Homo sapiens: one gene and its partner. The protein of the gene in region 2 interacts with the protein of the main gene of each other region in a pairwise test. Each region holds a gene or a part of one and is shown on either strand. Other genes may lie near its edges.

Region 1 (3,812 bases), on a different chromosome or scaffold from region 2:
AATAGGAGGGACCTCCAAAAATCCCTCTGTCCCCCAAGGCCCCTAGGAATGTTGGGACCATCGTGTAGGGCAAGCTGGCAGTGAAGCGCAGATCATGAGAAGAGACCAATCTGGCTATTCCCCTGAACCCAGCCATGTTCTGTGCGTGCACCCGCCCCCAACCTCATACTCAAACACACAGCCCTCCTGTCTGCCCTGACATGGGTCATAGCCTGCCTGTCTCCACCTCACACTTGTGCTATTGCTGTGTCCAACCTGTACCAACCCTTCCTCTGTTAAAAATTCAAGACTGCCGGCTGAGTGCAGTGGCTCATGCCTGTAATTCCAGCACTTTGGGAGGCCGAGGTGGACAGGTCACAAGGTCAGGAGTTTGAGACCAGCCTGGCCAACATGGTGAAACTCCATCTCTACTGAAAATACAAAAATTAGCCGGGCATGGTGGCGGGTGCCAGTAATCCCAGCTACCTGGGAGGCTGAGGCAGGAGAATTGCTTGAACCTGGGAGGCGGAGGTTGCTAGTGAGCCAAGATGGTGCCACTGCACTCCAGCCTGGGCAACAAGAGCAAGACTCTGTCTCAAAAAAAAAAAAAAAAATTCAAGACTGCCTTCCCTAATCCAGGCTTTACATCCCTCTCCTCTGATTAAAAAAAATTTTTCGCTGGGCGCAGTGACTCATGCCTGTAATCCCAGCCTTTTGGGAGGCCAAAGCGGGTGGATCACCTGAGGTCAGGAGTTCGAGACCAGCCTGGCCGACATGGTGAAACCCTGTCTCTACTAAAAGGATAAAAATTAGCCAGGCATGGTGGCATGTGCCTATAAGCCCAGCTACTCGAGAGGCTGAGGCAGGAGAATTGCTTGAACCCGGGAGGCAGAGGTTGCAGTGAGCCAAGACTGCGCCACTGCACTCCAGCCTGGGAGACAAGAGCGAGGCTCTGTCTCAAAAAAAATTTTTTTACTGGGTTAAAATATACGTAACACAACATTCACCATTGTAGCCATTTTTAATGTACAGTTCGGTAATGTTAAATGCATTCATTTGTTCGTATTGTTGTGTAACCATCACCACTATCTATTTCCAGGACTTTTCATCACTTGAAACGGAAACTAGGTACTTATGACCTGTAACTCCCCATTCTTCCCTTTCCCCAGCCCCTGTAGCCACTGTTCTACATTCTGACTCTGAATTTTCCTATTCTAGGTATCCCATATAAGTGGAATCATATATTTGTCCTTTTGTATCTTCTCCTCTGATGTGATAGCCCTGACAGGCCCTCCCAGTTTGTTATTAGATTATACATTATCTTGTGTTGATGTTCAACTTTTTCACCCACGTGACTCCCATCTTCACCAGACCAAGAGTTCCTGGAGGGCAGTTTCTCTGCCGCACAGGCGAGCACAGCACTGGGTATGCCGTGGGATTCAGTCAACTCTTACTCGATAGTCAAGGGAACTGCTGACTGACTCACTGAGTGAGTGAACAGTGAATGTGTGGGGTAGTTACAGGAAGCTGGAACCACTGGGGAGGAGACATACCTGAGGGCATCCGTTCTGGCTGACGCGAGGCACGTCAAAGTTCATCATGGACGGGATAGGGAAGGACAGTGGGGTGATGGGCAGCCCCACAGAGGCCAGGTCCCTGTTAGCCTGGCTGACCCTGGGGAGGCAGGGAGACAGGGTCAGTGCTCTGGGCTCTGCACCTGAGCCTGGCAGCCCAGGGCCCCCCGCTTAGACTCTGGGTTGATGCAAGAGAAGGGAGTTGCAGGGATCCCGCCGAGTTCGGGCCTGGACCTCACGACAAGTGGGGACCACTGGGCTGGGCGTGCATCAATCATCTTCCTTCCTCCAACAAGCAAGGGGGCTTCATAAGTCATAAAAACTCAACAGGAGATACAGAGAAGTAGGGGAGTCATCTTGGGCCATCAGGGCCAGTTGGAAGTGACCAAGACAGACCCTGACTCCCAGGAGTCGGTGCTGTGGCAGAGAGCACACGTTCATAGGGGAATTTCCCACTGTGTGGCAAAGTATGAATCTCCTCTTGAGGACTGTGACTCCAACAGACTCAAAAGGAGGTCTAGGGGAGGAGGGGATGAGTTGTGGCTGGGACCAGGGAGACCTCCAGGATGAGGAGGGAGGAGACTCCGCCCGGCAGGGCTAAAGGCTGTGAAGTTCCAAGATGGCCTTTGGGGCCAACCACTGGCTGGAGCCTGTGGCCCTGAGCTAGAGTGGGAGGGGGAGTGGGGAGGTGGTGGGTGTGAGGCAGGGAGGCAGGTTGGAGGGGCTGAGGTTCCCTGAGCAGGGAATGAGGACCCCTCTTGTTGTCCTCCCCACACTCTCTAGCTGTTAGGCCTGGTATCGGCACTCATCCCCACCACCTGCCCTCCAGCTTGCTCTCAGGAGAGGACTGAGCTGCCCCTTTCCAGGGGCCTGGGCTCTCCCTGGGGAAAGAAAGGCATGGTCTGCTGCAGGAAGCTTACTGGGACCTCAGACCCAATGGAGAGGCTTGAAGGGCCTTAGGGGTAGAGGGGTTGCCGGAGGTCCTGGAATCAGCCCATGGCAGCAATGACAGCCTCACCCCCTCCTCTGCCCTCTGCTCTGCCCTCCTCACCCAGGTCCACCTGGGCCCCACTCACTTAAATTCCTTGTAGTTGGGAACGACCCGGGCAATCACCACTATGGGGTTGGGGTTGTTGGCCAGGGGCTCGTTGACTCCCCGGAGAAAGATCTGGAGAGGAGAGGAGAGGAGGCAGGTGAACACCATGTGGCCTTGGGACCTTCCAGAGACAGCCAGCCAGACTGCCTACCCTCTTTTTCCCCATCCGTGAGCTCATGGCTGCCTCCACACTTGACACCTGCTTCTCCCTGTTCCCTGCCTTACTCGGTTCTTGCTTTGCACCAGGCTGCCCTCCCTCAGGAAGCCTTCTCTGCCGAGCTGAGGCAACTGCTCCCGCTTTCTGTCCTGGGATTTACCAATGGATCTCTTACACTAGTTTCTTTGGGGAGAAAGGGTACGATGAGAGTTGGGTCCTGGGAAGGGAGGTTGTGTTCTAACCTCGGCCCCTCCACTGGCTCCTGGGGAGGGGTTGGGCTAGGGGTAGGGCTAGGTGTTCCAGCTCCTTGGTTTCTGTCAGTCAAATGAGGCTCCTCCCAGGGCTGTGAGGGGTCTCTGATTAGATCGTTTGTGAGAGAGCACTTTATAAACTGAAGACAGGAAGCCCAGGTCTGGTTTCTCCGACCATGCTGAACTTCCTGAGATCAGCGGCCACAGCCAGGCTCCCCTTGCCTCCCTCGTGCCCATCACCCTGGTGCCTGCTCCACTGCTCACCCTGGTGCCTGCTCTCCTGCCTTGCTGGTTTCCCCAGGAAGTACTGGTTTGGAACAGGATCATAGCATCCGCATCTCTGGGCTCCTCTTTCTTCATCAGATCCCGGTTGTCACTCCCCTGACCGCCCTTGGTTGTTCCCTCCTCAGTCCTCTGTCACCCCCTAAAGGCTTCCCTGCCTCCCAGTCCTGACTGCCCTCTCCTCTACTCCAGGCTTCTATTGGCGCAGCTTTCAGAGAGCCGAGCGGGGTCCCAGCAGGAGGTTACAAAGCAGGAGTGGACAGCGTCACCTTGCTCCAACCCTCACTGACCCCCTGCTCAGTCTGGGCCTGGGGGACACTGGAAGGCAGACAGGGGAGACAGGGAGTCTGTCCCCATGCGCCTCTGCTGCCAGCCTAAGAGGCCCTGATCTCCCGGACCCTGACCCTCACCCTGTATCCACCAATGGCTCCCACTCTCCCTCAGCCCTCACCCACCTCCCACTCGGCTCTCAT
Region 2 (3,812 bases):
ACCTAGCACAGGGCTAGAACCAGGGAAATGGACTGCAGAGGACAGAAATAGGAAATGGTCTGAAGCCTTTGAACCTTGGCAACCCTTGTACCTTGGCACTAGCCCTCTCCTTTGAGGCCCTAACCTGGTGGTAGTGTGGCGGTGCTGGTGATGGTAATGGCTAAAATGATGGGCTGGCCCCAAGGACACACTTCACCTCTGGCTAGTGGGAAAGGCCCCAGGTTATTCCTAGAGGGAAGGGCAGAGCCAAGGGTGATGGGACTCAGTGTGCCCTAAGGAGGACCTCACTTGACGTGCTGAAAGAGGACGCCATTCCCTGTGATGTACAGTCGGCTTCCGTCTAGCGTGCTCTCGATGCGAAGCTGGCCCAGCGCAGAGTCCGGGTACTTGACCAGCAGACCCAGGGCCATTGTGTAGAGCGGTTTCACGGACTCCAGGCTGGCTGTGCGGGCCCCCTTCCCGGGGCTCAGGGGAGAACAGGTGGTCGGGGAACAGCCACCTGTGTCAGAGAGAAAGGGGTGACTCCTAGGCCCCCCATGGTCATAGCTGGATTGGAGGCTTTGGGGCTCGGTTCCTACTGCTGCCTCCATTGTACCGAGGAGGCTCAGAGGAAGGATATTTCTTTGCACAGTCCAAATCAAGATCTTCTCAAAATTAGTATAATTTTTTTGTATACTCAGGCTTAGAAGTCATAACTATTTGTTGGGAGGTGAGTTGGGAGTGGGGGGATTCATTTGCTGTATCACTAGCATCTGAATTTCCTAAGTTTCAGGAAAGCAGCCATCTGGCCCTAGCCTCTGCAGGAGTCTTCATTAGTTCCAAGCTCTTCTGTAACCATCCAAAGGTAAAGAACGGCAACCATGGCCTGGAAACTCAATGTGTGTTACAGGCTTCCTGGATTCACAGCCCCTGTTGCTGGCTCTCCTGGGCAGAATTTCCCCCAGAGACATACTGTGTGGCATTATTTTCAGGGTGGGTATTTGGGTTGCTGGTTTATGGATGGGACCTTTTTCTCCTATAGTGGGCCTAGGGTACAGTCCAGAGAATACAGTTATCACAGCCTTCAGGACCCTGCTCCCGTGGCAACAATGTGCCAGTGGGCACACTGCTGGGGGATGTTCGTGGATCATCTCCAATCCTCAGAGCAACCCTGCAAGAGGGGATAGTGCTATCATCATTTCACGTTGAAGAACCTGCCCTGAGAGGCTAATGAAGTATCTTGCCCTAAACTGCAAAGCTAGGCAGGGGCAGGGCTAGGATTTGAGGTCAGCTCTGTCCAGCTCCAAGGTTACCACAGCTGTTTCCCTTATTGTGATGCTTTGTAGAAAGCTAAAGCCACCCTTTGTGTTTGAGGAGTGCTGCCAGCTCCCAGAGCCTGGCTGTCAACACACTTCCTCCATCTTTGCATTGCTCTGTGGAGCAGGGACTACGCTACCATCTCACAATGATCTATGTTCTCTGAGGAGTAGAAGGCTTTGAGGGAAGGGGCTGAACTCACACCATCTTAAGCGGATTATAAGGCCCTGGGACAGGGTCCTGAGACCTGCTGGAGCATGCCACTCCCCACAAAGAGGATGGGTTTCTTTTTTGAGAAGGAGTCTCACTCTGTTGCCCAGGCTTGAGTGCAGTGGCATGATCTCGGCTCACTGCAGCCTCCACCTCCTGGGTTCAAGCGATTCTCCTGCCTCAGCTTCCCAAGTAGTGGGATTACAGGTGCGTGCCACCATGCCCGGCTAATTTTTGTATTTTAGTAGAGATGGGGTTTCACCATGTTGGCCAGGCTGGTCTCGAACTCCTGACCTCAAGTGAGCCACTTGCGTTGGCCTCTCAAAATGCTGAGATTACAGGCATCAGCCACCAGCGCCTGGCCAAGAGGATGGGTTTCTATTTGTCTGGGAGAAGGCTGGGAAATCTATGCCTGAAGATAAGGAAAGGCCTGATTGCCATGGGATAAATGTCTGGTGATGTCCAGGCCAAACTTCCCATGTGCAATGCAGTTCTACACATTCTCGGGATGGTGGCTGAAGCCATGCTCAGGTAGCTTGCGCCCTATAACATGCACAGTAGCTTCCATGGAGGTGGAGTTGGGAAATGGAATGATGAACAGCCCTGAGGAAACCATGAGGGGAAGAACAAGCTGGAATGAGGTAGGGCTGGGAGCACGAAGGCCTAGGCTGGACAGGGGTCAGCAAGCGTCAGGAATAGGCAGAAACAGGCACAGCAGCCGGGGGTTTCCACGTGAGGTGACGAGGGAATTTGGGGGTGGATGAGATGCATGAAGCACTGAGCATTTCCCACACCTCCAACCGTGCCTGGAAGAGGAAGGATGGGAGTGGCTGGTGGGTGCTCTTAGTCCCCACCACTTTCACAAGCAGGGCAGACCTCCCCTGCCCCTGAGAAGCCTGCCTTCAGGCCCAGGACATTCCAGCCTGGCTCCCCACCCAGGCTGGGCTCCTCCTGATCCAGGCTGGGCTGGGCTTTCTACACCCCTGGCTGGTTGCCCACTCCCCACCCTCAGTGGGAAGGCTGAGCCGGCAGGGCAGCACACAGGGTTTCAGGCTGTGAATCCTCTTCTTGGATTCAGAGTCAGCCAGAAAACCCAATCCTCTCACTAACCCCCAAAGCCCGAAGTGATTGTGGGAGGGAAGATTGTTCTTGGCTTTTCCAGGTCAAGCCAAGACTGTCGAGGGGGAGCCAAGGTTTCCTGGCGACATACCCATGTTCATCCGGTACCACCTTACGGCTTCAGTGAGTGCAGGGATTTCCAGAATTTCCACTTCTGCTTCTAATACATCAATGTTGGAGAAATTATCCGGTAGTAAAATCTTCTGTGAGCGAAGAAAATTCACTTGAAAAACAAAGGGGAACACAGTGAGTTAATGAGGCTATTTCTGGTTTAGCTGTAGGTCCTGGTTTTGGCAGGTTTCTGGTGCTGTAACTTATCCTAGGTTCTCCTTGTTCTGAAACAACTTATCAACATACCTTATTAGATTAGCTTTGAGTGTGTGGTTTTCAAGGCGAAAGACCCCACATTACTTTGTTTTCCTGTGTCTGAGGCCGTGGGTGTGGCCTCCCGTGGCTTGGCCTGGGGCTCCCAAGCCAGGCCCTCCTGGTGGGCACACTGGCCCTGAGACTTACCCTGTGAGTTTTGACCCAAGAGCAGGTCATTCCAAAAGAGGGAGTTGTCTTGCTGCTTAGAGAGGAGGGGCCCGGCCGAGCCTGGGCTGGCGGGTGGCACTTGCAGTTTGTCCCTGCCTGGACTGCAGTATGGGAGGCAGAGATGGAGCCAACGCTAATGTCCTGTGTGAATCAACTTAGAGATACAGAAGCACATCACAGACAACTTTCTAGGTGACTATGAATATGAATGACTGGGGTTCCAGACATTTGGGCTCCTAGTGTAACTTGAGTGTTTACTGCCCTATCTATCTAGACAGCAGTAGCATCTTGGGGTCAAAGAGATCATTCAGTTCACATCCCAAACAGAGCTCATCCTGGGGCAGTAGGGGGAGAGAGGCTCTCTCTGTCAAAGGTGGAAAATCTCATCCTTCCTTAGGCCACTACCTCAAGTGGACAATTCTGCTATGACTCTGGGGGAACCTGTCACCATCCACCCTCCTTCCCTTTTATTCTGAGTTTGCTGACATTAAGAGCAGGTAGCACCATCCTTTGAAACAATCTGGATTCCTCATTTTATGGTGAGAGGAACTGAGGCCGGAAGACCAGCTGGATACATAAGGGCAGAGTAAGAAGAGAAGCCGACTGGCAACCAGCTGAGCTCCCTGCCCTTCACACCAACTCCTGTGGTCCCT

Evidence for each region.
Region 1: the proteins of KCTD19 (region 2) and CCDC33 interact in a two-hybrid assay, tested with the Homo sapiens proteins (one large-scale study listed by BioGRID).

What each region holds. Positions count from the first base shown.
Region 1 is NC_000015.10:74,270,612-74,274,423, reverse strand, and holds part of CCDC33 (coiled-coil domain-containing protein 33), read right to left. Parts: intron 2,722-3,812; coding exon 2,630-2,721; intron 1,654-2,629; coding exon 1,533-1,653; intron 1-1,532.
Region 2 is NC_000016.10:67,299,075-67,302,886, forward strand, and holds part of KCTD19 (BTB/POZ domain-containing protein KCTD19), read right to left. Parts: intron 2,849-3,812; coding exon 2,717-2,848; intron 500-2,716; coding exon 289-499; intron 1-288. UniProt on the Homo sapiens protein: Transcription regulator which is essential for male fertility and for the completion of meiotic prophase in spermatocytes. Regulates progression of the pachytene stage of meiotic prophase and promotes the transcriptional activation activity ZNF541.